5 linked regions of the Homo sapiens genome follow. The protein of the gene in region 2 purifies or fractionates together with the protein of the main gene of each other region. This does not show direct contact. Each region holds a gene or a part of one and is shown on either strand. Other genes may lie near its edges. The genes, in order: TPD52L2, SDCCAG8, LRRFIP2, MYH14 and ERC2.

Evidence for each region.
Region 1: the proteins of SDCCAG8 (region 2) and TPD52L2 purify together in Homo sapiens (affinity purification with mass spectrometry, with the first as the bait; one large-scale study listed by BioGRID). This does not show direct contact.
Region 3: the proteins of SDCCAG8 (region 2) and LRRFIP2 purify together in Homo sapiens (co-immunoprecipitation; one study listed by IntAct). This does not show direct contact.
Region 4: the proteins of SDCCAG8 (region 2) and MYH14 purify together in Homo sapiens (co-immunoprecipitation; one study listed by IntAct). This does not show direct contact.
Region 5: the proteins of SDCCAG8 (region 2) and ERC2 purify together in Homo sapiens (co-immunoprecipitation; one study listed by IntAct). This does not show direct contact.

What each region holds. Positions count from the first base shown.
Region 1 is NC_000020.11:63,874,392-63,880,587, forward strand, and holds part of TPD52L2 (tumor protein D54), read left to right. Parts: intron 1-1,424; coding exon 1,425-1,484; intron 1,485-6,196.
Region 2 is NC_000001.11:243,495,639-243,501,885, forward strand, and holds the end of SDCCAG8 (serologically defined colon cancer antigen 8), read left to right. Parts: intron 1-4,085; exon of another isoform or gene 4,086-4,104; coding exon of another isoform or gene 4,105-4,117; coding exon 4,118-4,147; coding exon of another isoform or gene 4,148-4,148; 3' UTR 4,149-4,453; downstream 4,454-6,247. UniProt on the Homo sapiens protein: Plays a role in the establishment of cell polarity and epithelial lumen formation. Also plays an essential role in ciliogenesis and subsequent Hedgehog signaling pathway that requires the presence of intact primary cilia for pathway activation.
Region 3 is NC_000003.12:37,110,337-37,116,532, reverse strand, and holds part of LRRFIP2 (leucine-rich repeat flightless-interacting protein 2), read left to right. Parts: intron 1-1,437; coding exon 1,438-1,479; intron 1,480-3,552; coding exon 3,553-3,618; intron 3,619-5,467; coding exon 5,468-5,542; intron 5,543-6,196. UniProt on the Homo sapiens protein: May function as activator of the canonical Wnt signaling pathway, in association with DVL3, upstream of CTNNB1/beta-catenin.
Region 4 is NC_000019.10:50,247,508-50,253,703, forward strand, and holds part of MYH14 (myosin-14), read left to right. Parts: intron 1-1,479; coding exon 1,480-1,632; intron 1,633-2,142; coding exon 2,143-2,316; intron 2,317-3,007; coding exon 3,008-3,181; intron 3,182-5,131; coding exon 5,132-5,246; intron 5,247-6,196. UniProt on the Homo sapiens protein: Cellular myosin that appears to play a role in cytokinesis, cell shape, and specialized functions such as secretion and capping.
Region 5 is NC_000003.12:56,461,023-56,467,218, forward strand, and holds part of ERC2 (ERC protein 2), read right to left. Parts: intron 1-6,196. UniProt on the Homo sapiens protein: Thought to be involved in the organization of the cytomatrix at the nerve terminals active zone (CAZ) which regulates neurotransmitter release. Seems to act together with BSN. May recruit liprin-alpha proteins to the CAZ.

The sequences.
Region 1 (6,196 bases), on a different chromosome or scaffold from region 2:
TTGAGATGGTTTCGCTCTGTCACCCAGGCTGGAGTGCAGTGGCGCAATCATGATTCACTGCAACCTCAACCTCCTGGGTTCAAGCAATCCTCCCAACTCAACCCCCCTCGTAGCTGGGATGACAGGCGTGCGCCACCATGCCTGGCTAATTTTTTCACGTTTTATAGAGACAGGGTCTTGCTTTGCTACCTAGGCTGGTCTCAAATTTCTGGGCTCAAGCAATCCTCTTGTTTTGGCCTCCTAAAATGCTTGGGATTACACGTGTGAGCCACCACATCCGGCTTATATACGTGTTCTAAAAAGGCAGACACACTGGCTAGTTGTCCTGGTGGAAAATGATAGGAAGACTGTTTCAGGGTCCAGACTTGAGAGAGCACTGATCAGGTCCTTGGCAAGAGCGGTTTTTCTGTGGTCCTTGTTGTGGGTGTGGCATGGTCACAGCCTCTGACCCAGATATGGCCATATGGGCCGGGCATGGTGGCTCATGCCTACAATCCCAGCACTTTGGGAGGCTGAGGCGGGTGTATCACTTGAGGTTAGGAGTTCAAGACTAGCCTGACCAACATGGAGAAACCCTGTCTCTACTAAAAAATAAAAAAATTTAGCTGGGCGTGGTGGTGCGCACCTGTGATCTCGGCTACTAGGGAGGCTGAGGCAGGAGAATCTCTTTAACCCGGGAGGCGGAGGTTGCAGTGAGCCAAAATTATGCCACTGCCCTCCAGCCTGGGTGACAGAGCAAGACTCTGTCTCAAAAAAAAAAAATATATATATATATATATTTATATATAGGACCATATGGTCCCACAACCCTAGGGACTCTGACCCTCCCCGATGACGACGTGGTCCTACATGACGACGTGGTCCTATAACCCTGGGACACCTGTCCCAGATGTCGCTCAGCTCTGAATTTGGGGAGTGCTGCTTTCTCACTTGGCCCTGTCCACGTGGCTTCTCTGAAACATACCCTTCAAGGTTGGGGTGGCTGTGGAATGTTTCCCAGAAGACATGTTCCTATACAAAGACAGAACAGGTCACATTTCATAAATCTCACATATGAGAGGCCCATGTTTTTGTCCTAGGACATCGTAAGTTTTGAATCCCAAGGGTGTTTTGGAGCTGTGGGCTGTGCCCTTCCAGTCCCCCACAGCAGTGCTGTTGCCCAAGAATCTCCTAGCGAGAGACCAGGGGCTACTGCCAGGTGACAGAAAAGGGAACATCAGTTCCGCTATACCCACAGCTCACCTGGCGGCCTGGGGCCTGCACAGGGCCTGGTTGAGGCAGTGGACCCCATTTTTGGGCCGTCTGTGGAGTTGATGTTCCTGCCAGCTGGTCCCTCTCTGTCTTCCCTGGAACTTCACCTGCAGTTTGATGCCTGAGTTAAAATTGTTCTTCTAAATAATTCACTGTAGACTTTCTGTTTTTAGCTATGTGAAAACTTCTGAGAAACTTGGAGAGTGGAATGAGAAAGTGACCCAGTCAGACCTGTGAGTGCCTGTATCATCAGCACCTCCTCCTTCCTCCTCTCCGCCTCCTGACACTCAGTCGGGGAAGGGGGCTGTGCACACTTGGCACAAAGCTTGTTTTGGTATTTGCTGGCTATTTTTTCTTCCTATAACTTTTCTTCTCTCAGGTAAACTATCCTTTAAACTTTTGTGGAACAGGGAATAGTAGCTGAGAGAAACTCACTCAGCCACCTGACCACACTTAAAACTCCCCTCTGCCTGATATGCGTCCCTTATGTAAGAGGCCTGCACTGGTCCTGGCTGTATCTCTAACTAATAGAGCTCCTTGGCTTCCGGCAGTGCACAAGCTGGACAACACCACTTGGCCTGGGTTTGTTGGTGGCGAATTTTTGTTTGTTCTAACCCTAACCCTTTTCCCTGCTTAGCTCCAGCTGTTGGGTTCTCAGAATTCCTTTCCTCCTTTAGGGGTAGTTCTTGAGTGGAGGGCATGGTGTAGGATATGCTGGTGGAAATTTGAAATCCTCACGATCTGGGAGGCACTGCATTGTCAGAGCATCAGCCAGTGTGGATCAAGTGTGGATAGTTTTGTATGTGTGTGTCAGTGGTGTTGTTCAGAGTGACTCCTAATATTTGGAGATCCTTAAACTAGATAATAGCACTTCATTTACTTGTGCTCTGATCTGATTATAACGTCTTTAAACTGAGGAGGGGAATATTTTTAAATAGTCTCTGTGGGATTTTTTCATCTGTTATTTAGAAGGAAGCGCTGTAATCGTTGCCACAGAACATGGGCAGAAAGTCCTCCCATGTTGGTCTGAAAGGAAGCAGTTGCTGCCGAGCTTGTCTTGAAGGTCCTGGGGGACCAGGCTGGCACTGCGTGCACATGGAGCCTTTGCGTCTGGTGTCACGGTGGGAGGCTGGTGTCAGGAACCCCGGGCGGTTCTCGGCATGTTGCCCCGGGTATTCCAGGGACCCGGGTGGTTCGTGGGCATGGCTACAGCAGCCAGCTGTACATCTGGGTGCTCTGGGGACCCGGGCGGTTCACGGCATGTTGCCCTGGGTATTCCAGGGACCCGGGCGGTTTGTGGGCATGGCTACAGCAGCCAGCTGTACATCTGGGTGCTCTGGGGACCCGGGTGGTTCATGGCATGTTGCCCTGGGTTTTTTTTGTTTGTTTGGTTTTTTTTTTGAGACAACGTCTCGTTCTGTCTCCCAGGCTGGAGTGCAGTGGCGCCATCTGGGCTCACTGCAAGCTCCGCCTCCCGGGTTCACACCATTCTCCTGCCTCAGCCTCCCCAGTAGCTGGGACTACAGGCGCCCGCCACCACGCCCGGCTAATTTTTTCTATTTTTAGTAGAGACAGGATTTCACCATGTCAGCCAGGATGGTCTCAATCTCCTGACCTCGTGATCCGCCTGCCTCAGCCTCCCAAAGTGCTGGGACTACAGGCGCCCACCACCACGCCCGGCTAATTTTTTGTATTTTTAGTAGAGACAGGGTTTCATGGTGTTAGCCAGGATGGTTTCGATCTCCTGACCTCGTGATCCGCCCATCTCGGCCTCCCAAAGTGCTGGGATGACAGGCGTGACCCACTGCACCCGGCTTGAGCAGGGTGTTCTAGGGACCCTGGTGGGCTGTGTCTCGGGCTGTTGAACAGTGACTTTGCTGGGCAGCAGATGGTTCCTAGGTTGGGACAGTGACGGTCATCCTTGCAGTTTGGGCATCAGGCGGACGCACAGTGCAGACTCAGTCTGAAAATAGTCTTAGGAGACTTCAGTGCTGTTTTGTAAAACCAACTGACATAAAGCTGCCGGGATCCTATTTCAAATAAATAGTGTTTTAGAGAGCTTATTACAACACTCAGCGTCCCGACCCCTCTGGAGAAACCTGTGGCTCAGCATGGAAGCATATGGCCAGTGCATCACCTGGCCGAGGCCATTCCCCTGAGTTCTGTGGCGAGAGCTGTCAACTGACGGTTCCAGAGTGGAAGCGTTTCTGCCGGGAAGGCCCAGGCCGAGGGCGATGGTTTCTGCCGGGACGGCCCAGGCCGAGGGCGATGGTTTCTGGTGGGAAGGCCCAGGCCGAGGGCGATGGTTTCTGCCGGGACGGCCGAGGCCGAGGGCGGTGGTTTCTGCCGGGACGGCCCAGACGGAAGGGATGCGGCTTGGGAGGTGGGGCCTGAGGATGTGGCCATGGCGCGTGCTCTTCCTGGCTGGTGCCTCTCCTAGTCAGCTTCAGGAGATGGGCTGTAGATGTACCTCCACTGCCCAGAGCTCTGCAGGGGAAGGCAGTAAAAGCTCCCTGCATCCTGACCCACGTGTTTGTAGATCCTTTCAGCTATTGGCGCCCTGGAGGATGGACGGGAAGGAGAACGTGGCCGGTGGGTGGAGGATAGCACTGGTGCCTGGCCCCATGAGGCTGCAATGCGGCCACATTCTCAGTGGGTCATGTCTGAATGCGAGAGCAGCTGTGTTCTGCGAGTGGTGAAACAATTGCCTGTTGCATTCTATTTATAGGCAGAGGTAACTAAAAACCTCAGTGCTGAGAGGGGCATCATATAGATCCTGCAGTTATGAGCTGGTTCACTTGGAGTTGTTTTGGTTGCAGGTGACAGAAAGCACGACTCAAGGTAGCATCAACCAAACAGGGAGGTGGGAGCACTCACCAGGCAGAGAAGTCCCTGCCCCCACTGCTGCAGCCCAACAGTGTGGCCCCATATGGGTCTCCCTGGACTAATGGCTGCGGCCTTGGAGGTGGTGTGCTCTGGCCAGGCCTGGATCACTTGTCCATCCTGAGTGGGAGTGGGGGCAGCCCCCAGAGACAGACTCAGGAGAGGGGGAGTGCAAGGATGTCCCCCAGATGCCCTGTGCTGCCCAGGGGACAGCTCACTGGCAGTGGGACGAAACCGCTGTCTGTCCAGGGCTCTCTTCCTAGAAGGTCTTAGGAACTCCCAAATGGGTGCTGGCTGGGGTTGCCCGGCCCGGTGCTCTCAAGGAGAGCTGAAGCTAGTTATTGGGTGCAGATGCTGGCTCTGACCCCTGCCCCTTCCTCCCGGGCTCAGCTTCCCCATCTGTCATGGAGTAATAACAACCCAGCCTTCTGGTCCACTGAGGAATGTGTGTGCCTGTGTGTTTGACGCTCTCAGAACAGGCCTGCAGCGCTGTGAGCCTTGGAAGGGGGCCTCACAGCTGCTGCCGCCACCTTGGAGGCCCAGGATGGGACTGAGAAGGGGAAGGGAGAGGTCAGAGCCACAGCTGTTGGGCAGGGACCTGCTGTAGGAAGAGAAGGCCAGGGAGGCGCTGGTGGTGGCCTCAGGCTATGCAGGTGATGCCCATTGTTTCCAGGGCCATCCCAGTTTGGAGGTTCCTGTTTCTAGAGGAGGTTCCCTTGTGACCCCCTCATTTCCACACCCGAGCAATGCTGAGGGCTGTGGGGCCCCCAGGGGCTTGAGTGTGGTTTATGGCACAGCAGGGACTGATCACAGTGGCACCGGGTGTCAGTGGCCAGTGGTCAGTGGCCAGGAACCCTCAGGACCCTCCTCCTTGTGTGGGTGGCATTTACCCACCCACAGGTCACGCTCAGGACCCGCATCTCATTCCGATCCTCCTTGTGTGGGTGGTACTTACCCACCCACAGGTCACGCTCAGGACCCCACATCTCATTCTGAAGGCCGGGCACAGGCGGTTGTTTTCTCTCCAACTTCGGTTTCCCCATCCCCACTCTTAGGGCACAAATGCAGGTGTAGCTTCCCCATGCCCACTCTTTAGGCACAAATGCAGGTGTAGCTTCCCCATCCCCACTCTTAGGGCACAAATGCAGGTGCAGCTTCCCCATCCCCACTCTTAGGGCACAAATGCAGGTGCAGCTTCCCCATCCCCACTCTTTAGGCACAAATGCAGGTGCAGCTTTCCCATCCCCACTCTTAGGGCACAAATGCAGGTGCAGCTTTCCCATCCCCACTCTTAGGGCACAAATGCAGGTGCAGCTTCCCCATCCCCACTCTTAGGGCACAAATGCAGGTGCAGCTTCCCCATCCCCACTCTTAGGGCACAAATGCAGGTGCAGCTTCCCCATCCCCACTCTTTAGGCACAAATGCAGGTGCAGCTTCCCCATCCCCACTCTTTAGGCACAAATGCAGGTGCAGCTTCCCCATCCCCACTCTTAGGGCACAAATGCAGGTGCAGCTTCCCCATCCCCACTCTTTAGGCACAAATGCAGGTGCAGCTTCCCCATCCCCACTCTTTAGGCACAAATGCAGGTGCAGCTTTCCCATCCCCACTCTTAGGGCACAAATGCAGGTGCAGCTTCCCCATCCCCACTCTTTAGGCACAAATGCAGGTGCAGCTTCCCCATCCCCACTCTTAGGGCACAAATGCAGGTGCAGCTTCCCCATCCCCACTCTTAGGGCACAAATGCAGGTGCAGCTTCCCCATCCCCACTCTTTAGGCACAAATGCAGGTGCAGCTTCCCCATCCCCACTCTTAGGGCACAAATGCAGGTGCAGCTTCCCCATCCCCACTCTTTAGGCACAAATGCAGGTGCAGCTTCCCCATCCCCACTCTTAGGGCACAAATGCAGGTGCAGCTTCCCCATCCCCACTCTTTAGGCACAAATGCAGGTGCTGTGAGCGCTTTAGAATCCTCTGCTGCAGGTGACTTTGCTTCAGCGAACCACAGAATGTTCACATGGTTTTATGCATTTGTTATTTCAGGGAAAATCAAGGTTAAAGATG
Region 2 (6,247 bases):
AGGGGCCTGAGGGTGGCTGACTGCCCCTCGGCTCTGTAGAGGAGTGCTCCCTTCTGACAGGTGGGCGGTCCTGCTCGAAGGCCGCGTTTCCCCGACGTTCTGCCCAGCATGCTGAGGGCACCTCTCTCCTCAGTGCGTTGGTGGCGAGCCAGAGCTCACGTGGCTTATTTCATCCAGGTTGCCTTCCCAATTTGGCAGCTTAATTCCGTAGATATCAAACTGGCTGCCCCTCATCTGCCAGAGCAAGCAGGAGAGCCTCGCATGGGAGAGTCTGGACTTTGAGGTCAAACTGCCTGGATTCGAATCTCAGCTCTGCGTTGCTTCAGAGACATGTGTTAGCTTTCATGTCACTTGATTTCTGGCAGAGAAAAAGAAAGAACCAGCTTCCCTTTAAAAGGAAGTGCCTCATATTACCCAGAGCCCAGCACAGATGATTATGAAACCAACAGGATTAGTGCTGAGATCATTGTGGGCTTGAAAGGGCCATTTGAGATAAATAACCATTTTGTACAGATAGAAAAATAAGGCCCAGAGAAATGAAGTGAATGGAATTGGGAAGTGGCTGGGCAGGGAAATGAACTTCTTCTCAGGCCACAGGATGTGTGGATGGGGGCAGGTACCCGAGCGGGTGCGGGCGGAGCCGGGCCTGGCTGGAACAGCTGCCGAGCCCTGGCCCCGGTGCCCAGAACACGAGGCGGAGGCGGGAGGCGAGCCACCAAGCGAGGCAGGGGCTGCCCTGGAGCTCTGTCAACTCAGGGCCAGCTTTGAAATGCCCCAGATGGAGGTAGGGGGAGGGGCCTGCCCTCTCCAGTTACAAATGGATGCTTTATTGCCAGACACACAAGGAACAGGACCACGTTTTGACTTGGCCAAACAGAGACAGCGTGCCAGTGAGCAGAGCGGACAGCAGGGGGGGAAGGGGTTGTTACCTTCAGAAGGGTTGGCTAGAGCCACCCACGGAGACAGTGAAGTGCGAAGCCCGGGCAGGTCTCCTGTGAGCAGGGGCGAGGGGTGCCACCATCTCCCCGGGCTGCCACTTCTGGCTGGTTTGGGAACAAAGCAGCAGCAAAGGCTGGCTGGACCCCACAGTGTGGTTGCCTGGGGAACAGTTCAGGTCACCCAGAGCAACTGATTTCTTACACTCAGAACTTAACAAACTTTAGAAATAAATGAGGCAGGGTTTGTGGAGAGATGACTCCGATAGGATTTAAAATGAGAACAAAGAAAATGGGTTAGCAGCTGTGTGCCTGCAGATGGGGGCACGTTTCCACCACCTGTGGACAGCACGGCAGGGGAGCAGTGGCCAGGGCGCCCTGTCGCCCCCCTCTGAGCTGCAGGACAGCCACAGGAGGGCCACAGCAAGGGCCATGATGACAAATGGAAGGGCAGAAGGACGGGAGACACTGGCTGAGGGCTCATGTCCCACTGGCATACGCACGCTCTACTCTCCTGGACGAGACCATGATCACTGTGGTGTTGATGACAGGACTTCCTGGAAATAAGCATCGTGGATATCCCTAATGGCAGACAAGCCAGATGTGGGCAGTAACTAAGGCTTCTGTCTCGGTCAGAGAAATGTGTGTTACCAAAGAGTCAGCAAATGGAGGCGACAAAACGGTGACCTCCTAGGACAAATTATCCAGCCCTCCAGTGCTGACTGAACGCTCACCATGGGTCAGGCACGGCTGTAGGCACGGGTGGGGGGGGGGGCGTTGAGCAGTGAACGGTAAGTTCAACAGTGTGAAAGTGGGGATGGATATGGGGCTTCTCACCTGAACCGCAGGAAATACAAAGCCCATAGAGATGGCCATGGCTGATCTGCCGCAGGAAGGAATCAGGCTGACTTTTGATTGGTTCCTGGTGAGGCCCGTACATCTGTGTCACCCCCATGCAGGCCCACGGAATCAGGAGGTCACCCGTTTCTGGAACAGCTCCGATAGTGATAAATTGCTAGGTGGCCTGGGAGCCCACAGGCATTATGTAGACTCATCATGAGAAATGCCTGTTTCCTGGAGCTTATCAAAAAATTCCGCAACACATTTTACTTTTACTTCAGGTCTTTACGCCTATTCTGTATTGTGTGTACGTGGGTGTGTTCTCTACCCAAAATTCATCACTGCAGCCTTGAATTCTGGGCTACAGCAATTCTCCTACATCAGCCTTTTGAGTCGCTGGGACTACAGGGGTGCGCCACCACACATGGCTAATTTTTACAATTTTTTTTGTAGAGATGAGGTCTCACTATGTTGCCCAGGCTGGTCTCGAACTCCTGGACTCAAGCGATCCTATTGCCCCAGCCTCCCAAAGCACTGGGATTACAGGTGTGAGCCACTGTTGGGTTGTTTTTCTTTTGAAGTGTTATCTGTTGGGATTTATGCTTATCCCTTTTGTATTCAGTCATCCTAGCATTTCTAAAGTTAGGAAGCCACTGTGTCAAGAGCGAGGCCACCAGGCCACCTGCCTTATGTGGCCAATCCATGGAGCAGGGGTGGAGGGCCATTCAAACCAGTCATTTAGCAGGACTGTGCTGGGTCAGTTCGATCACCTGGCCTGGAGGGCACGTCAGCTTGGTGCAAACCCTGCGTTTGACAATCAGATCGTGTTGGTGGCAGTCTCCGTGCTGTCAGTATCCCACTGAGGACAGAAGGGAGTCCCCTCTGCAATGGCAGGGCTCTAGGGCATAGTGCATGGGGTGGACTCCTCATGGGCCACTCAGACAGGGCCTGGAGAACAAAGCATCCCGTGGGCCCAGGAAATTGTCCACCTGGCTCCACGGGCCTGGGAGGGCTGTGTGCATGGGATGGCAGGTTTACGAGGAGGAGTGAGGCCTCCTGCCGGAGCCCCACCTGCATTCAGCCTGAGGCCAGGCCCCCCACCTACTCTAACTACCCTGCTGAGACCACCCCACTACTCACAGACCTGTTCAAGAAAAAGTTGTCCTCAGGGTCTCTCACACACTGGGAAATCTACTTGAAATGTAAACATTACTTTTTCTCATTTTTCATAAAAGGCAACAGGCTGATGTTCATATATTTCTCTTGAATGCGGATTCAGTTTCACTCATTGCCCTGTCTTGGAAATCCCCATGTTAATGATGGCTTAAATTAGGTTGATAGAGTCCTCCCTTGGAGTCCAGCTTGGAAAATCCTCACTGGAGAGGGGCAGGCCCACTTCTCTTTTTGGAAGATGGTTCCTAACTAAAGAAAGAGGGACCAGATTGGGCCCCTGGCCCTGCAGTGCGTCCCAATTTATCTGACGTAGAAACCGGGATTTGGAAAATACCATCCTGGCTTTTCTCTGGACTTCACAATCTAGAGGGCGAGGACTGTGGCCCAGTCACCTTCCCACACAGTGCACAGTAGAAACTCCAGACATGCTTTGTGGAGTGGAAACATTTCCAGTGGCTTCTGACTCTAGTTCCTGATGTGGTTTAAACTAATTTGGGCAGCCATGGCAGCAGAGGCCAGGAACAGTATTCAATACTTTCTGAACTTGTGATTCTCCCCCAACCTGATCTGCATGAAGCTACTTTGGAACATTTGTATCTGCGTAAAACTAAGAGACCTCAGTACACCCAATCCCCTCTTCCAACACATGTGAGGTTTCCATGTGAAAGTACTTTTTCATAGGTTACAATAAATTGCTTGCAGTTACAAATTTGGAGGTGTTTCAGCTTGTATTGTTTCACGAGGAATTTCTTAGGGGCACTTGGCCTACACCCTGTTTTTGTTCTAGAATTACCTGCCGTTAAGGTCAGATAAATTTTCAGTAAACAGATTATGGCACAAATCAATGTGTCCTTTCCCGGACAGAAGAGATGGCTCTCTGGCCATGTCCTAACACCAGACTGTCCTTATTTAAGAGGCAGGCGTGTCTTTTGTCTAGGTTGTCTTCAAATTTAACCCATTAAACCAGTTAACCTTATTTCATATGTGAAGGGCTTTGATGTGGACAAGATGAGGCACAAACTTTTCATATAATTTCCACATTTTTAGCAACAGGTTTTTTTCTCCAACAACAGTTTTCATCATAAAAGGTGACTAAACCAGCAAATGAGAAGACAAATAACATTGAAGAACATGAGCTATTGAAACTTACTTTTTATTATTTTTTCCAGTTACCCAGCATGCCACAATCTGATTGCTGACCTGGATGGAACAGAGTGAAATAAATGATTTACAAAGAGATATTTACATTCATCTGGTTTAGACTTAATATGCCACAACGCACCACGACCTTCCCAGGGTGACACCGCCTCAGCCTGCAGTGGGGCTGGTCCTCATCAACGCGGGCGCTGTCCCCGCACGCAGTCGGGCTGGAGCTGGAGTCTGACTCTAGCTGAGCAGAGCTCCTGGTGTATGTTTTCAGAAATGGCTTGAAGTTATGTGTTTAAATCTGCTCATTCGTATGCTAGGTTATACATATGATTTTCAATAAATGAACTTTTTAAAGACTTGAGTTGTAATGTTTCCTTTTTATCTTGTAGTGATGAACAAAACACACCAAAAAGGCACATATTTTAACTAGGCCAAAGTATATTAAGGACCAAACTTTTTTTCCTGCCATTCATTTTTCTTTTCATGATCTATATATCAATCATCCTTCACCTTTAATCAATGTCCCATCAGACTCCATTTTATTTATTTATCGTCCTACTTTGTGCACAATCAATCAATCAGGAGACACCAGGAAGCACTATGCATTACTCTTTCCATTCTGTTAAACAACGAAAACAGACAAAAAAGCATCTTTGGCTCGGTGGTGTCAGATTTTTTTCTTCAATACGCAGTATTTGAGAGGAGCCTAAAAACGTACTTAGTGAAATTAGAAAATTTACTTAGAGTATATCAAATATCTGTACACAGATAATTATTTGTCTAAAATAGTATTTCTACTATACACAATTAAGCCCTCAAATGCTTTAAAGTAATAAAAACGGACACTGGACATACCGTGTTGTATCTGAGAATGACAAACACTAAAGGCAAGGCTGCAGTTAGTTAGGACAGGTCCCTGACCTTCGGCTGCCCTGCCTGGCCAGCGAGCCATCATCCTCATCACCATCTCAACACAGAGCTGATGTCACCATATGCTCAGCCTTGCCTCTCAGAAGTGATGTGGATTAGGCTTTGGAGGCGGTGGCATGATCTACACACAGAGACCATTTGAATCTCTTGAGCATGTAAAAGGTTCAAGCCTGAAACAGTAGAACTTCTATTCAGATTCAGAAGTTTTTTATTTCATCAAATGTGCTAGACATAAAGGCTGTCACATAAGATATTTTAATTGTCCTTAATTCTGTTTTAGATATACTGTGAATAAATTATACAATATTCTAAAAATAGCACCTTTAAAGAATTATAGAGGTCACTTTTTTTTAGCCTCCTGGATCTGTCAACCCCAGTGGTTTTGAGAGAAGAGCACATGTGAGAATGCCCTCAAATTTGGCCGTGTGACATACACATACATGCTTGACTCACTCTGGTCCCAAAAGCCATTCCTCTGTCTGGCTTCGTCACAGGAGCAAAGCCAAGTTTCTACAATAGTAGCTTTATGAGGTAAAATCAGAAAAAGGCCCCATCCAGAATGATTCAACGTGAAGTCAGACTGCAGTCCAGCCATCCTACCCATCTACATCACCCACGTCTAAGTTTGTTAATTTGCCATGACATGTTGTTAGAAATACACTCTAAGAAAGGAAATATGCAGAGCAGTACATTATCAGGAAGACGTTAATGAAAAGCTACATTCCTTCAGATTCTGGGTCCAAACCGTGTGTTGTATAGATGATTCGGGTCTGAATGTCCCCAGGGTCTGAGACCTCCTTCATCCCTGGCTTCACAGTACATCCATCCTAAATCCAGTGCTGAGAGGTCAGCGTTTCCCCTCAGAAGCAGCCGTTCATCAAAGTTTGCACAACCGCACTACTGCCATTTCACTGAAGTAAAAATGATCCCCTATGTGTGTGTGTGTGAGCTACAAGGAATTATTTCTATATTTTCCTGTCACATTTTATACAAGGTAGGTTAATACCAGCTGGGGCTATTAAAAATCATGTTTTCATTAAAGAAGATTTAATTTGGGGGGATTATAGAACCACATCCAACAACAATAAACAGAGAAGTAGCAGATTGACATAGTGCTTTATTTAAGCTGTCTGTACGAAGGAAAATCATGTTCATCCCTATCATATACGTGTAAAAATACTAAGGATGTACAGTGTACAAAAACAGTTTCTCCTAGTTAT
Region 3 (6,196 bases), on a different chromosome or scaffold from region 2:
TGAAACAAAAGTTTCACAAAATAATATTTGCACTTACTTTGCACAACACCCTCTAATATTTTCTCTTCTAGTTTAGTTTTTAAAATGCTGGTTGAGGGCAGGGTACGGTGGCCTCTGCCTGTAATCCCAGCCCTTTGGAAGGCTGAGGTAGGAGAATTGCTTGAGCCCAGGAGTTCAAGACCAACCTGGGCAACATAGCAAGACCCCATCTCCTAAAATTAAAAAAAAAAAAATTAGGTAAGTATGGTGGCATGTTCCTGTAGTTCTGTAGTTCCAGGTACTTGGGAGCCTGAAGTGGGAGGATCACTTGAACCCAGGAGTTCGATGTTGCGGTGAACTATGATCAAGCTATTGTACTCCAACCTGGGCAAAAGAGTGAAACCCTGTCTCAAAAAAAGCTGGTTGACCCTACTAAGTTGATTTTATGAACTACTGATGAATTGCAACCTATCCTTATGAAAACGTTACTTTAGATTGGGTTTTTGAATAGTATTGCTTAAAATTTTAAATGAATATAAGAGTTGGAAAAGAAAGATATTTTTATCAAACAATTAGTATTTAAACTACCTGAGGAACTTGTTCATTGCTTTTATTTGTTTTGTATATGACTTTCTGGGTAGACAGCTTAAAAATATAAACTAGAATGCTTAAGAAACGATGTGTGAAAACCATAAATCTATGTAGTTACTATTTAGTTTTTCTTCCCTGGATTTGAAATGTGGTATTACATATCTTACTTTTAAAAAGGATCCTACATGAAATGTGGGTGTTCTGGTCTTACGAGTTTTGTATATTTTTCTTTGATTTATATTCAGTGTCACACCTGTATGTATACTGTGCAGTTCACACATTGACCAGATTTCTCAAAATGAGAAATCGGCATTTTCTTGAGGAAGGACATTCTTAGGTGTTTGTTCACAAGCAGATCCAAGGGAATGTTCCCCATCTTGGTGCTGCAATTGTTCTTTTGTAAGCTTGACCATGCTTGTTATGTCAGCTTGCCTCATTGCCTGTTCATCCTTTGCTTTTGCCATTTTTCAAACAATAGGAAATGATGTTAAAAGTGATAATAATTTTCTTAAAAAGCATTTTTGACTTTAGAATGCTTAATTCTTGTATTTAAAGGCTCCCTTAGGATGTTTTGTGCTATAGTGTACTGAGATTGAATCATATCACTATTACTGATTATGAATTTTGTTGTTTAAAAGAAAAATAAACATACAGTTTTGAATATACATACAGTTTAGCAATACTTTATACTAGGAAAAAGTAGGAGGAAGAATATTTTTTAATTCAACTGGATTAGCTTTCATGTTTAATAATTTTTTATTTTAAAATAGTGCTGGATTTTTAAAATAACCTCAAATATTACTTCTTCTCTTCTTTATATTTCTGAATTTGGAAACAAACCAACTTTCATGTTTTGCTGAAACCCAGTATGATATGTTCAAGGATAGATCATCAAGACTTTCATCATTAGTATGTAGCACATGACTTTGTGTTATATGTGGAATTTTACTTTATAAACATCTGTTGATGCTAATTATAGAATATGACTAACTTTCATGGCTTTGTTATGAACTTTTGGGGAAAATGTGTGACTAACAAAGCAAAAAGCTAATGTTTTGTGGTTGTGGCATGAATAGTAATTTTTTTCTTTAGGATTTCAGAATTAGACACAAGTTATTCTTATCTATTGAGGACTAGGATTGGTAGTAATATCTTTTTTTTTTTTTTAATTTTAAAGATGGGGTCCCTCTCTGTCAACCAGGCTGGAGTGCAGTGGTGCAATCATAGCTTACTGACTGCAACCTTGAACTCCTGGATTCAAGGGATCCTCCCACCTCAGCCTTCTGAGTAGCGAGTACTATAAACATGTGCCACCATGCCCAGCTAATTGTTTTATTTTTTTTGTAGAGATGGGGTTTTGCTATGCTGTCCAGGCTGGTCTCGAACTTTTGGTCTCAAGTGATCCTCCCACCTTGGCCTCCCAAAGTGATGGGATTACATATGTGAGCCATCATGCCCAGCTGGTAGTAATATATCTTTTCTTAAAATGATGAGCCACCCACCTAACATATACTCATTGTCATTCTAACACTGTTAGAAACTTGTCTTCATGTTGAGCACAAGCCCAAATTGTGTTTTATGTCATATGTCACAAAGCTGGCAGGTGTGAAGTTGCTAGATAGAAAACATCCAGTAGTGTTAGAGGACACCTAAGACATCAGTTATGTCCAAACATTTTGGTTTGATTTGGTTAGTTTTTTATGGTATGTCATTAACCAAGGAATTTAAGTTATAGCTTGTTTTTCTTGGGTTAATATTTTGTCAATAGGTTGCCTGAGTTTCTAAATTACATAGACATCTCTTAAAATATTCAGAGTAATGTATAAAAAGATGCATATTCAAAAAAAAAAAAGTAAAATGAGTTTTTAATCATTGATTGGGAATACAGCTATATATATGTGAGATGGTTTACCTAGAGCAGTCTGTTGCCTTTGGCTCTTGATAGGTAGGGCACTTCTAGCCACACTCTCTTATTTCAGGCAAGTAGTACGTACCTAGATTAGATTTCTTATCTACCAATTTACCTATTTAGTAGTATTGCTAGCCTTAATTTCCCCATATGTACTTGGCTGTGTACTCCTAGGAAAAGTTAGGTATTGAGACAATCCTGTCTTCAAGGGACCCTTTTATAAGGTGACCATTTATGGTATGCTGGGCAATCCATACCATGTTGGTTGTTTTCCTCCTGAGCATTACATACTGTGGATTCACTAATTTGGGTTAAGAGTACTGTCTGGGACAGTTTAATGTCATGTTCTTTGTTCTCTCAGTCCTGTTTTAATTGTTCCAAAAGATTGCTTTTTGACCTTTAGGTAAGGAAGACTATAGAAGGAAATGAATTATCTTGTTACCTATACCCTTAGCCAGGAGTGGTGTCTCATGCCTGTAATCCCAGCATTTCAGGAGGTTGAGGCAGGAGGATCACTTGAGGCCAAGAGTTCAAGACCATCCTGGACAACATAGCAAGACATTGTCTCTACCTGTTCCCCCAACCCCAAATTAGCTGGGTGTAGTGGTACATGCCTGTGGTCCTACCTACTCAGGAGACTGTGGCAGGAGTCCAGGAGTTCTAGGCTGCAGTGAGCCATGATTGTACCACTATACCCCTGTCTGGGTGACAGAGTGAGACCCTGTTTCTATTGAAAAAGAAAAAAAAGAAGTCAGAGGGACTCAAGTGTGGTGTGAAGGTCTCCACAAATATTCTGCCTGGTTCTTAGTTCTAATCAAGTTTTCTTTAGCTGGCCAGACACACAGATGCTTGGCACAGAGGGAGGTGAGGGAGGAATGCAGATGTGTAGAGAGGCCAGGTAGACTAGCTAGTAAAGTGCAGTGAATTGTTTACTAACCTTTGGGAAATAAATTGCATGTAAACTATTGTGTATCTCATATAGACCTTTGTGTATATAATTTGAAGATGAATTTTATTATTTTCATAACTTCGCTATGCAATCATTGAAGTTAACTTGGAATATTTACTTCCAGAATCATTCTTACAGTCACTCTCATGGAATGAAGAAGAGGTCTTCTGATTCTCATAAAGACCTACTGGTTAGTTCTGTTGTCTCTCATATCACAATTCACGAAGTACTGTTAGGAACTTAAGGATTATGATTGCTTTGGTGTGCTACTAGGACATTATTGAAACTTGATAATCTGCTGAAACATGATTTATCAGAAATTTAAAAATAATTTTGTTTTCATTTGCAAGTTTTAGTATTAACATATGCAAACCCTAGCAGCCAGAGTTAGTACTATATCACAAGAAGCTCATTAACAAGTATTTTCATTTATTAATTGTCCTTTGGAATATACCTCAAGAATAGGTTTAGTAAGATTCTCATCCTTATTTTAGGAATTTGAATTGATTTAGTTGTGGTATTATGGGCCGTAACTAAACTCACAAATAGGTTTCATTCTAAAAGTTTGTGTTTTGGGAACTTGGAATGCATTTTCTAGTTTCTTCAATAAATATGTAATGGCAAAGTTTCCATACTAGCTTGCTGAAAACTCTTTAACCTATAATGTAATTAAACTGCAGAATTAATATACTCTTTATTCTAGTCACTTTGTGAAACAACACTTCTTTTTTCTTTTTCTTTTTTTCTTTTCTTTTTTTTTTTCTTTTTTTGAGATGGAGTCTCGCTCTGTCTCCCAGGCTGGAGTGCATGGCGCGATCTCGGCTCACTGCAACCTCCACCTCCCAGGTTCAAGCGATTCTCCTGCCTCAGCCTCCCAAGTAGCTGGGATTACAGGCATGTGCCACTCTTCCTGGCTAATTTTTGTATTTTTGTAGAGATGGGGTTTTGCCAGGTGATCTGCCCGCCTCTGCCTCCCGAAGTTCTGGGATTACAGGCATGAGCCACAGTGCCCGGCTGCTAAACAAATTTCTGTGAGGAAAATAATGTCTCCAGAATGCCCACTTGGTACATTGGAAACACCCATTTCCTGTTAGGCTGCAACAGTACTGGCAAAGGAAGTGCAGTCCCAACTCCTTGCTAATTCAGGGTTCCCATGGGTTGAACGGGGAGAGGGTTGGAAGGCTTTGGTTGGTACAAGGGAGGAGAGAAGGGAGAATGTAATGGGGAGGAAATTAACGAGAGGCCCTGGAAGGTAGGGTCTTGGGATCTCTGGGGAGAGGTGAGCCTTAGGTGCCTAGTTGAGGGTGTGAGTGGGGAGTGAGGAGCGGTGTGGGAAGGCAGGGCTAGGGGTGGTAGGGATGGGGTGGGAGTAGGGATGTCCTCAACTCCACTGTCAACACTGATGGAGTCTTTAAGTCAGAGATTGCCTAAATTTGCTTAACCTTGAGTAAAAAAGTTGGCTAGAGAAGTTGGGAAGGGAATTTTATAGATGGTTTTCTCTCCCTCAATTAGCTATAATGTGTACTATTGTTTATTTTGTACATTGTATAAATGAACCTGCCGTAAGTGTTTTAGATCAAACCATATTTATCGTACTCTCTCTTTCATTTTGGTAACTTAATTTGTCAGTTTATTTTGACAAGTAATGGGACTAGGAAATGTTTGGAACCAAATACATAGCTCTTTAATAACTTCTGTGGCTTTGCCAGATGGATTGTAAAACTGGTAATTATTCAGTTGTCCAGGAGTGTTCAAGGACTTTCTTAAGTATGGCATGAGAATAAATTGTTTTCATTCCATTTTCTCTGAGGGTTTATTGTCTTGTTTTTAAATTTAAAAATTTAGTAATGTCTTTGTTTTAGGGGCTTGAAATAATTGTCACTTTGACTTAATGTGATATGATGATTTAAAAACATTTTGGAGAAGAAGGGATTTGGCAATATCATATTTTGCCTTTTTGTGTTCAGTTTTGCCTTTGTGTGTTGTTAGGTTATTAACATTTAGCCTAAGAAAAATGTGTTTAATTTTGCTTTTTGCAGAGTGGCCTCTACTTTGACCAGAGAAACTATAGCAGTCTTAGACATAGCAAACCCACCTCTGCCTACTACACTCGGGTTTGTCTAAACTTTTTTGGCTTTATGTGTTTGATTCACTTTTAACATATTTCTAATCTCCCCATTTTGCATTTTGACTAGCTGTAACTAATCTGTAAATGGCTACGTATATACTAGTTTTTGGTAACTGAATTTATATAGTCTGTGGGAGTCTCTTTAAACAACGGGAACTATTCAGTCATCATGTTTATAAATCAGTACCATTAAAGACATTTTTAAATAAAGATGTTTAAATGTACAAAAAAAGTTCAAGGAATAATACAGTGAACATCACATACCTATCATTTAGATTATATAATTCATTATATTTCCTTTATCACATAATTATCTATTTGACCCTCTAACCATCAATTCATCTTAGTTTTTGATACATTTCAAAATAAGTTGTAAGCATCCATATACTTCAGAGTGGGTACCCTTTTAAAAAAGCTTACATATAAAAATGTAAACACGTGGCATGAGAAGAATGTAATTATTTAATGTTAGAATCTCTTGTTTTTTTAAAGGCATTTGACACATCATACATTTAAGACACATTAAGTGTATGGCACACAGTACATTTAAAATAATTTTGTTTAAAAAACCTGCACACGCAACTTAAGTACTCTTATTTTTCATCTCTGATTGGGTTTGGTGAAAACTTGAAAAGTATGT
Region 4 (6,196 bases), on a different chromosome or scaffold from region 2:
AAAATTAAAAAATTTAATAATAATTTAAAAAAACAGGATGTAAATGCAACATGGTATCCTAGAAAAACAAAAAACAAAAACCCAGGATGCTTTTAGATGGTGAGAGCACCTGTGAAGGGGAGGTTTTGTTGGTCAGGAAAGTCCTCTCTAAGGAAGCTCTAAGGATGAAACATTCGAGATGAGACCTAGATGGTTCGAGGCAGACGGAACCGCAAGTGTAAAGGCCCTGGGGGTGGAGCAGGCTTGGGGAGTTGGGAACATTAAGCAGGTCAGTGAGGCCGGGTGTGGGGGCTCATGCCTGTAATCCCAGCTCTTTGGGAGGCTGAGGCGGACAGATTGAGCTCAGGAGTTCAAGATCAGCCTGGGCAACATGGTGAATCTCCGTCTCTACTAAAATACAAAAATTAGCTGGGTATGTGGCACACGCCTGTAGTCCCAGCTACTTGGGAGGCTGAGACACGAGGATCACTTGAACCTAGGAGGCAGAGGTTGCAGTGAGCTGAGAGCACGCCACTGCACTTCAGCCTGGGTGACAGAGCGAGACTCTGTCTCAAAAAAAAAAAAAAAAAGAAAAGAAAAAAAGAAAATTGAAGGAGGTCAGGTCAGTGAGGCTGAAGAGCAAGGGAGAGAGGGTGGGTGAATCCACAGTCAGAAATGTCAGCAAGGGGCAGATCATGCAGGGTCTTAGGGGCCACAGTAAGGAGGTGAGTTTTATTCAAACTACATAGGAGGCCATTGAGGTTTTAAGCCAGGGAGTGACTTGATTCAGTTTGTCTTTCATAGAAAGATCCCCTTGGCTGCTGCATGGAGAATTGGGTTCAGGGATGCAGGTAGAGGCGGGGAGACCTAAGGAGGCTGCATCCAGAGTCTTGGCAATCGTGGGAGCTCACACCATGAGCAGGGAGGGTGGAGTGGAGCGACCACAGGCCAGGGAGGGTTTCAGAATCCAGCTTTTGGGCAGAGGCCTCTGCTGGCCCCAGGCTGGGCAGTGAGGTACCTGGATGAAGACCCCGTGGGGGAGATGAGGAGTCTGGGAGCCACACTGACCCGGGTTCAATCTCAGCTGGGGTACTGTTGTTAGTTCCCATTTTACAGAGGAGAAAACTGAGGCACAGAGAGGTTTATTCACATGCCTGAAATCACACAGCCCCTAAGTGGCAGAGCTGGGATTCAAACCCAAGTTGTCCGGCTCCAGAGTCCACGCTCTTAACCGCTGTGCGGTAGAAACTGCTTTGAGGGGGTGAGGGAAGGATTCAAGGGCTAACACATCCGAGCCCGTCATGTAGTACCTGGTGCGCAGTAGGACTTCAGGAATGTCTGCCTGTTGTTCATGGCATTGTTCTTGATGGTACTTACACTCAAGGAGCTGGGAGGCGACCTTAAGGGGGACGAGCTGGGGGCCCTTCCCCGGTTCACCCCCGACGTCTTTCAGTCTGCTGATGTGCAGGCTGCGCCCTTACCATGAGCCCTGTCCCACAGGCTGACTTCGCGCTGGAGGCCCTGGCCAAGGCCACCTACGAGCGCCTCTTCCGCTGGCTGGTTCTGCGCCTCAACCGGGCCTTGGACCGCAGCCCCCGCCAAGGCGCCTCCTTCCTGGGCATCCTGGACATCGCGGGCTTTGAGATCTTCCAGGTCCACCCTTGTGCTGGGAGGGGGATGCCAACTTCCTCACTCCGGTCCTGGTCCTTTCTGAAGCCCTGGGTCTCTCCCCTTCTCCCTGGTCTCTGTCCCCCTCTCTCTCTCTGAGTCTCTGTTCCCCCCTCTCTCTGGTCTCTGTCCCCCTCTCTCTGGGTCTCTGTCCCCTGTCTCTGGGTCTCTGTCCCCTTCTCTCTCTGGGTCTCTGTCCCCTGTCTCTGGGTCTCTGTCCCCCTCTCTCTCTGGGTCTCTGTCCTCTCTCTCTGCATCTCTGTCCCCTGTCTCTGGGTCTCTGCCTCTCTGTCTCTGGGTCTCTGTCCCCTGTCTCTGGCTCTGTCCCCTGTCTCTGGGTCTCTGTCCCCCTCTCTCTGGGTCTCTGTCCCCCTCTCTCTGGGTCTCTGTCCCCTCTCGATGCATCTCTGTCCCCTGTCTCTGGGTCTCTGTCCCCTGTCTCTGGGTCTCTGTCCCTCTCCATCCTCCCAGCTCACGTGTCCTGCGTCCCTGCAGCTGAACTCCTTCGAGCAGCTCTGCATCAACTACACCAACGAGAAGCTGCAGCAGCTCTTCAACCACACCATGTTCGTGCTGGAGCAGGAGGAGTACCAGCGTGAGGGCATCCCCTGGACCTTCCTCGACTTTGGCCTCGACCTGCAGCCCTGCATCGACCTCATCGAGCGGCCGGTGAGCCCCAGGCCCCTCCCAGCCCACACTCACGGTTCAGATCCGTCTCTCCCAGCATCTGCGAGACCAGGGTCTAGCTCCTCCTCTGCTGGGCCTCAGGATGCCCCATGGGTTCTGTGGGGAAGGTGACAGCACCTGCTTCCTCGATCTTTTGTGACCATAGGTGATTAGGGCCCAGAATGTGCCTGCCACAGGGCCCGGCTCAAATCAATCGGTTAATCAGAGCTCTCACCGTAACTGTTGTTCTCACGTTTGTTTTTTGTTTGTTTGTTTTGTTTTGTTTTGTTTTTTTCTTGAGACGGAGTCTCGCTCTATCGCCCAGGCTGGAGTGCAGCGGCGCGATCTCTGCTTACTGCAAGCTTCGCCCCCTGGGTTCACGCCATTCTCCTGCCTCAGCCTCCCGAGTAGCTGGGACTACAGGTGCCCGCCACCACGCCCGGCTAATTTTTTGTATTTTTAGTAGAGTCGGGGGTTTCACTGTGTTAGCCAGGATGGTCTCGATCTCCTGACCTCGTGATCTACCCGCCTCGGCCTCCCAAAGTGCTGGGATTACAGGCGTGAGCCACCGTGCCTGGCATCTCACGTTTGTTTTTATGTCCAAGTGTGACTTATAAGAGCTAAAAATCAGCAGCCACCTGAGTGTCCAATATGTGGGGATCTGACTTACTCTCCCCCTGCTGTCAATGGCCAGGCCAACCCCCCTGGACTCCTGGCCCTGCTGGATGAGGAGTGCTGGTTCCCGAAGGCCACAGACAAGTCGTTTGTGGAGAAGGTAGCCCAGGAGCAGGGCGGCCACCCCAAGTTCCAGCGGCCGAGGCACCTGCGGGATCAGGCCGACTTCAGTGTTCTCCACTACGCGGGCAAGGTAGGGGCTGGGGCCGGCCTTGGGGCATGTGGGAGTGGGGATCAAGGGATCTCCACTGGCTACAGATGGGGGGAGGGTGCAGAGGGAAAACAGGGTCCTCCTGAGGTCCAGACAAACAGAGCAGGGGCTAGGAGAGCCCAGGGAGGAGCAAGGATTCTGTCTGATGGGATCACCAAAAACTTCCTCAAAGAGGTGATATTTGCAGTGGGTTTTGAGGGATGGGTAGGAGTTCATCAGGAGGCGATCTATGTGCATTTTATCCACTTATTCAGCAGATATGTGCGGGGTGCCATTTGTGTGCCCAGCTCGGGGCCGAGCAAAGCTGGATACACAGATCAAACATGGTTTCTGTCCTCACAAAGATCCCTATCTGGGAGGGAGGCAAATACAGACGATCAGGATATAAGGTTAATAGGTCTTTCAGTGGAGGCAGCTGAGGGTAGTGTCAGAGCCCAGAAGAGAAGTACCTGGGAAAGCTTCACAGAAGAGAATATGCTCAATCTCAAATCTCAGTCAAGGGCCGGCAAACATTTTCTGTAAAGGGTCCGATAGTAAATAGTTTCAGCTTTGTGGGCCAGACGATCTCTGTCACAGCTACACAATTCTGCTGTGGTCACACAAAAAGAGCCACAGATAATACATAAGTATCTTCAAGCCCCCAGGGAAAAAGAAAGGAAAAACAGACTGAGAAACAGTTTCGAGGGCTCTCTTGCCCCCAGAAGGGCCCCCATGAGTTTGACTATGAAGACATAAATGAAGGTTCTATTCCTATATATATATACACATATATATATACACACATATATATATACACACATATATATATACACACTACACACACACACACACACACACACACACACACACACACACACACACACATATATATATGTATTTTTTTTTATTTGAGACAGAGTCTCCCTCTGTTACCCAGGCTGGAGTGCAGTGGCACGATCTCGGCTCACTGCAATCTCCGCCTCCTAGGTTCAAGCAATTCTTCTGCCTCAGCCTCCCCAGTAGCTGGGATTACAGGCACCTGCCACCATGCCTGGCTAATTTTTGTATTTTTAGTAGAGACAGGGTTTCACCATGTTGGCCAGGCTGCTCTCGAACTCCTGACCTCAGTTGATCCACCCGCATAGGCCTCCCAAAGTGCTGGGATTACAGGTGTGAGCCACCGCGCCCAGCCCTATTCCAGTGAAAGTATTTGCAAAAAGAGGTGGCAGGCTGGATTTTGCCTGTGAGCCATAGTTTGCTGACCCCTGGTTTTGATGATGTGGACCAGGCAGCCCCAGAGGATGGGTGAAGGGTGGGAAGGGCTCTCCAGGCAGAGGGAACAGCATAGACAATGGCTGGGAGGCAGGAGATTCCATGTGTTCTGTGTCTAGCCCTCAGTTTCTTCCCCAGACATACTCCAGAACTCCCCCTGTACCCAGCCCTCTGCTAGGCCGTGAGTCAGACCTGGGCCCTGCCCTCGGGGGACCGCTGTCTGGTGGGGGGCACATATGCAGAGAATTGTAGCGGCCAAGATCGTGACTCTATGGAGCCCCACAGCAAAGCCCTGAGTACCCAGAAGGAGCCAGTGGTGTGAAACCCACAGAGACAGAACCCCAGGTGGCAGGAACCGCAGGGGTAAAACCCCGAGGTGGGAGTAAGCTCGCATGTTTGAGGAACAGTGCGGAGGCCAGGGTGGCTGGAGCGGAATGAATAGGAAGAAAGTGGTGGTGGTGGAGGTCACAGAGGTGGCAGGGGGCATAGAGGGGAAGGAGAGAGAGGGGACCATGCTGGTGGGGTGCAGTTCAGAATATGGACACAAGGTGGCACCAGTGCTCGCTTGTCCATGGTGAGCTCCAGACCTGGGAGTCTCAGAGCTTCTGGAAGGCTCCTTAGGAAATCCAGAGAATGTCTGAGCCTGCAAGTCATCGCCCTCCTCTACCTGACTTCATTCAGGTCGACTACAAGGCCAACGAGTGGCTGATGAAAAACATGGACCCTCTGAATGACAACGTCGCAGCCTTGCTCCACCAGAGCACAGACCGGCTGACGGCAGAGATCTGGAAAGACGGTGAGGACCCACTTCCCCCACCCCGGCTCTAGGGGTCTGTGCGGCCATTCTCCAAATCCACAGCGTGAGCACCTTTGTTTCAGAGGCGGAGGTCTGAACCTGAGTTTTCTGCTCAGACCCAGAATAGCCAGTGTCACAAATAGTATTTCAAATCAGTGATGGATGGATCCATAGATTAATTGATTGACTATTGATTTGATTGATAAGCCAGCATCCTTCTCAAGGATAAAGCACTCCGCCTTAATCAGAAACGTGGCAAAGATACCCACTAACACTACTGTTAAACATCGTTTTTTTAGCAATACTAGCCTATGCAATCAGACCAGAAAAAGTATGAATATCGAACAGGAAGAAGTAAACTTATTATTTTTAGATGGCCTGTGTTCCCTAAACAATTAGGAGATTTGGCTGGGCATGGTGGCTCACACCTGTAATCCCAGCACTTTTGGGAGGCCAAGGTGGGCGGATCACTTGAGGTCAGGAGTTCAAGACCAGCCTGGCCAACATGGTGAAACCCTGTCTCTACTAAAAGTACAACAATTAGCCAGATGTCCTGGTGCATGCCTGTAGTCTCAGCTACTAGGGAGGCTGAGGCAGGAGAATCGCTTGAATCTGGGAGGTAGAGGTTTCAGTGAGCCAAGATTGTGTCACTGCAATCCAGCCTGGGTGACAGTGTGAGACTCTGTCCCAAAAAAAAAAAAAAAATTCTACTGAGAAATAATTTATAACAATAAGAGAACACAGAATGATGATCTTTTGCAGGTCAGTCAACTTTTAGGCTTTGCTTTCTTTGTTTTCTTACAAAGTTCCCTTCACGCCCCCAGGGAAGAAGAAAGAAAAAACAGACTGAGATACAGTTTTGGAGGGCTTTCCTGCCCCCAAAAGGCCCCCATGAGTGTGACTGTCTTTTTGGATTGACACTTCTAGGGGTCATAGGCAGAGATGCCAAA
Region 5 (6,196 bases), on a different chromosome or scaffold from region 2:
GTGAGGTGCACTATACAATATGTCTTCAGGAACTTTTTAAGCATGAAAACAAATGTTATTGAGCATAAAGCTTTCAATTCAAAGAATCTATTAGCACAGAGACCAGCACGGACAGCGGATGTAGATGCCAGCCCACTCTTTTCCTAACTACAAAGTAAGGACAAGCTGGCCAGGCTTCAGGTTAATCCAGAAGGCACCCAAAAAGTAAGTTACATAAAGTTTAGCAGATGTGCTCAAAGATGGTGTATCAGTAAAGATAAGCAGAAAAGTGCTGCAGAAACCAAAAATCACAAAACTCTTCATGGCTTAAAACAACCAAAGTTTACTTCTTGGTCTATATGTCCAACTCCAGTTGACGGGAAGCTGTGTTCATTTAGTGACTGAAAGGCCCAGGCAGATGAAGGGCTCCATCTCAACACACATTTCCGTAATCATTGCAGTAGAAGAGGGCACTGGGTGCTCTCACACTGGAAATCAAATATTCTAGCATGGAAGTGATGCAAGCCACCTCCAACATATGCCTGGAAGGAAAGAAAAAGTGGCTATGGGGAACATTAACAGTCTCTACCACAGATGATATTAAGACACAACCTGTGGAATAACAAAGGGATTTGTTAAAGATGATGCACAAATAAAACATCTGAACAGCTATAAGATTCACATAATCATGAACCAGGAAGGGTGTGTAGGTGTCATTTTAGAGCAGTGGCCTCAACATAAAGACACTTCATACAACATAAATCTGGACCCTAAATTTCCAGAACAGCTCTGCTTTCTATAAATATACTGAGGGTCCAGATAAATTTTTATTTAGGAAACAAAGTTTTAACAGCTGAAAAACATTTGAAAACTATGAATGTAAACCAAATCCTTTATTTTACAAATTTAAAAAGTAAAGAGAAGAAAAAAAGGAGACACAGACAGTTAAAGTAACCCCAATCTACCCCTCAAGGAAGGTCTAGAATGTTTAGCAGAAATAAGTCCATGGACAGAATCTAATGTACCACTGCAGCACCTTCTGACCTTACCCTTCATCTCTGCTACCTTTAACTGGCACAGTGGAGCCAGACCCAGACCAAAGTCATTTAATACAAGGTCGTCAAGGGCTCAATAAATGGTATTGACAATGAGTAGAAGACCCCACCCCACAGCATGAAATAGTGATTCATATCTCATTAGCAATTCTCTACATTACTCATTCCCTACTTCTGGGCAAATGTGAAGCCATCAGTAGAAGTGAATACTAGCCTTCAGGAGACTTTCATTTTGCTCTCAGATGATCATAGGTTAACAGCAACTATGATTTGGGTTCACTCAATTCCATTATCTTCTCATGTCCCCAGCTCTGTTTCATGCCCAGTTTTCCCTCCACCTTCACTCGTACTAAAGCATGTATGTCATGCACTCAAGCCTCAGTGGTCTCCCAACCTCTGGTCTCTGTCTTTTTCAATGGCTTTATACTCACTAGCCCATGAAATCAAACTCAAATATTTCAACCAGGAATCCAGATGCCTCCTAAATCTTAATCCAGCCTAATTTTCCAACATTATCTCCACTATGGTACTTGTCCTGCACAGCCAGAGGCAAGATGATGATCCTGAAAGTCAAAATGATGTTGTTTTGAACCCCCAATGCTTCTACTTACTGGTTGGGCAAGTCCTTAACCCCTCTAAGTTTTAATGTTCTCACCTGCAAAATAGGTGATAGCACCTACTTTGAGGGTTTTCTTGAGAAGGTATGTATCAGTGAGGAGTATGTGCGGCTGCAAGTAATAAGTAGTGGCTTACAAGTAAAGAGCTTTTTAGTTTTATGCAATAAGAACTACAGGGGAAGGCAGTCTAAGCTGGTACTATGAATGAACGATGTCACCAAGACCAAGATCCTTCCAGGCTCCAGCTTTGCCATTTGTAAGACACGATTTTGGCTGGGCATGGTGGCTCACACCTCTAATCCCAGCACTTTGGGAGGCCAAGGCAGGCAGATCACTTGAGCTCGGGAGTTCAAGACCAGCCTGGGCAACATGGGGAAATCTCATCTTTACAAAAGTATACAAAAATCAGCCAGGCATGGTAGTGCGCACCTGTAGTTCCAGCTACTGGGAAGACTGAGGTGGGAGAATCACTTGAGCCGGGGAAGTCAAGGCTGCAGTGAGCTGAGATCGGTGCCACTGCACTCCAGCCTGGGTGACAGAGTGAGGCCCTGTCTCAAAAGCAAACAAAAAAAAACAAAAACCATGGCTTTATCTTCATTGTTGTAGTTGGCTGCTGCCCCTCCAGGCATTGCACCAATGATCTCAGCAGCAAGAAGTTAAAGAGCTGAAAAGTTCTTGGAGTATACCACCCACGTGTGTCTCACTCACTACATTTTCAGGAAAGCCTCCACCCAAAAACTTCCACCTATGCCATTATCAGACCCAACTCTCATGGCCACTCTAAGTCCAAGGGAGTCTTGGGAAGGTGAGGTGGGCTTATTTCCATCTCAGACAAAATTGGGGTTCTTTTAGTTGGAAAGGAGAAAATGAATGTTGGGTAGGCAACCAGCAAGCCTACCCAATATTAAATATCTTATGGAAAGTGCTAAGCACAGTGCCTAACACATAGTTAACTGCCCAATAGAAGTTAAGCTATAAATACTAGTGTTATAATTATTATTGTTGTTGTAATTCACCTTTCTTACTCTCTGGCCAAGTGGAATAACTCATTATATCCATGTGTGCCCCTACATTTTTATGGTATCCATTGCTCTATCTGCATCTCCAACTCTCTCCCTGCTTTAAGGTCCAGGAAAATGCCATTGCATCCAAGAAGTCCTTCCTTACACCTATTCCTAATGATAAGTTTCATGGTGGCAGGACCCACATCAGAATAAAACTGTGTTCACCACTGCACTGAACATTGTCTCTTGGAACACAGTAGGTTCTAATAAATAGTGCCTTAATAATTTAAGTAATTCATGTGTATACACAAACCTGTTTTATAGCCAGCCCTCTAAAATCAAACAGAGAATATTCCTGAAATGCAGAAGTTAAGGACCAGGTTTATATGTCACGCAGCTAGCAATGGGAGTGAGGGGATGAAAATTGCATTCCCCAAGAAAAAGAAAAAATTAGAAAATCCTCTAACCATAATTTTTACATGCTGTTGGAAGCTGGATGATAGTTCATCAAATATTCGCTCCCTTACTGTGAACAGAGTCTACGTTTACAGACAAGTGTTGTCCAAAATAGTACTTTTCCAAAACAGGTTATTAGTGAAAGTGACATTTGCTCGTGTAGTTTGCCTCTTGGCTCCAGTGATCTGCCAGGAGAAAAGCATGCCCCAGGTAGCTGCCATCCCTTCAGCCTGGGCCCCAGGACACATGTGGAGGAGACTGGAACCCAACCCACAGCCTCTACACAGCCACCCCAAGGAGCCCAACCTATACCAGCCAAATCACGGTCAACCTGAAGACCCATGAGTGTGAAAATAAATACCTGTTGCTGTAAGTCAGGGAGTTTTGTTACACTGCCAAAGCTGACTAATATATCTTATCATTTGATATATGTTAGCATGTCTTATATCTTCATTCATTTTGTTCCTTTTCTTCACATAAGAAGAAGAGGTTGTAGAGTCTCCATGTTTTGTACATCCAGTGAGTTCTACCTTTGGATCAACTATTTTAAATTTATGAGATCTACATTACCATGAATATTGGTGCTTTTCTGTGCTTTCCATTCATCCTATCTTTCTAAACTAAGAAAATCACAATAAAATATAAAGGAATAGTGTAAACATTGCTGAAACTGAAACTGTTGGCTGGCAAGTAGATGCCCCACGGACCAGCCAAAATGTTAACTGGTTAGAGGATTTTAAAAAAAGAAAAAAGAAAAAAAAAAAGGCTAGAGGGTGTCCTAGTAAAACAAGCAAATGCAGATTGTACAAAAGTCAACCTAACCAAAGTCAAAGACTCTTTAGGTAAATTTGTGGACTGCAATACCATTCACCTTATTTTTCAGGATACCTGTTTTGGCAAACCTTCACCACTGAGTTTCACCAATGGGAAGAGACTGATAAGGCTTACATCTTGTAGCTTTTCCAACATAACAAAACAAGAGGGGCCGGTCATGGTGGTTCACACCTGTAATGCCAGCACTTTGGGAGGCCAAGGCAGGAGGATCACCTGAGGTCAGGAGTTCAAGACCAGCCTGGCCAACATGGTGAAACCCAGTCTGTACTAAAAATACAAAAATTAGAGAGGCATGGTGGCGGGCACCTGTAATCCCAGCTACTTGGGAGGCTGAGGCAGGAGAATCACTTGAACCCGGGAGGCAGAGATTGCAGTGAGCCAAGATCACGCCACTGCACTCCAGCCTGGTGACAGAGCAAGACTCCATTTCAAAAAACAATAAAAAATAAAATAAAACAAGACGGTCATGCTATTACAAAAGAATAATTTTAAATATCATTATACCTAATCACTAATGGAAAAGGGTCTCTGTAAATAACAAAGAAAATAAAACCCTAATCCCTTGGTGGGGAGACAACTGAAGGATGTTAAGAGCATTTATTCAACCAAGATCTATTTAAAACTCTAATTGGAAATTTAAGGTGTCAAGAAAAATGGAAGAGTGTGAATTTTGTTTTGTTTTACCTTCTTTTAAGTCATCATCATTAAGTTTGGAACCAAATTTTTATCGAGCCAAAATTTTTATTTTATTATGTGTTATATTTTTTATATTTTATTATGTTTCTACTGGAAATATATAATAAACAGAGTTACTAAATTTGCCTATTGGCCCATGCCACAGCCTTCAAATGCAAAGGCAAAACAGGCTGATAAAAGGACTGTCAGAATCACAGTGGACTCTTAAAATGGTTAGCTCTACGTATGCTGGGAGAACCCACACTTCAGACTGGACACATGCAGACTACACAACCAAAATTTGAAGTCAAGGCCACGGCCAAGGTCATGGGCTCTGGGTAAGACGAACCCGGGCTCAGGTTCTTGCTTTCATACTAAACTGTGGCAAGATACTGAATTCCTTCTAGTTACTCATCTATAATTTGGGCGTAAGAATAGTACCTACCTCACAGGGGCTCCACAAGGTTTAAAAAAGATAATGCATATAAAGTACTCAACAAAGTGCTTGCCTATGCAATAACAATGATGATGATAGTAATAGTAATAATACTGCTTTGACAAACCCGGCTTCTACATGAAAACCATTCTAATCAGTATATTCTGGCTCACAGTCTGTTTATGAAAGGCTTAATTCACAGAATTATGTTCACATCCAGGTACAACTTCTATAAAGTGACAGCTCTTTGGATCAATCAGTAATTTTTCTAATGAATTCAGGGAGAAGGGTGTTGAAAAATCAGGCTTTCACTAGTAGTGAGTTGAGATGGATCTGGTCCTTCACCCATGATTCATCCACCCGTGAAAGTCTTGCTGGTGAAAACCATGACACCATCACCTTCCACACCCCTCCCTGCCAAAACTGTAAAAGTATTTTATTAAAGCACAGAAGCAAACAGACAAGATGGCTTACATGAGAAAAAGGCAAACTCTACTACTCCCCGGAAAGAAAATGGCTTGACCCCACCACCACCGAACTGACATTCTGCAAAAGAGAACAAGGCAGCCCTCACTTCCAGAAGTTGAGTTAACTGTCAGAACTAAAAGAATCCCTTCTATTCATGTGACTCCCCATAAAGAACGTTTGCCGGCTCCAAAAATACCTTATAAATCCATCCAGTAGAGCCAAGCCCCAAGTACTGTATACTGAGAAACAATGTGACTTTACAAGGACAAGAGTGACCATAGGAGACAAAGTGCCACACCCTTTTCCCGGATAGCTCAACGGTACATGTTGTCTCTTATAAAGACTGCAATTCTGGAGAAATAGGTGGGCAATTCTAACACCCCCTCCCCCAATTCCTTCTTTACACAGATTCATTTTCATTTTTAAGCCAGTGGCCTCGGCATCCGCAACTACTACAACTAATAATCAGGGGGGTGGTGGGTAAGGGATGGGGAGGACAAGGAAACACAGGTCAAATATACTTGCTTCTAAAAGTCCATTTTCAAAGAGTTTTCTTCCCGCTTGTCTGCCTCTCACAGCTGTATCCCCATACCAGGTGGAAACCAATGGTTAAGTAAAATCACTGATTTAAAGAGCCAACCAGGAAACTAACCATGACAAGTGGGAGCTGCC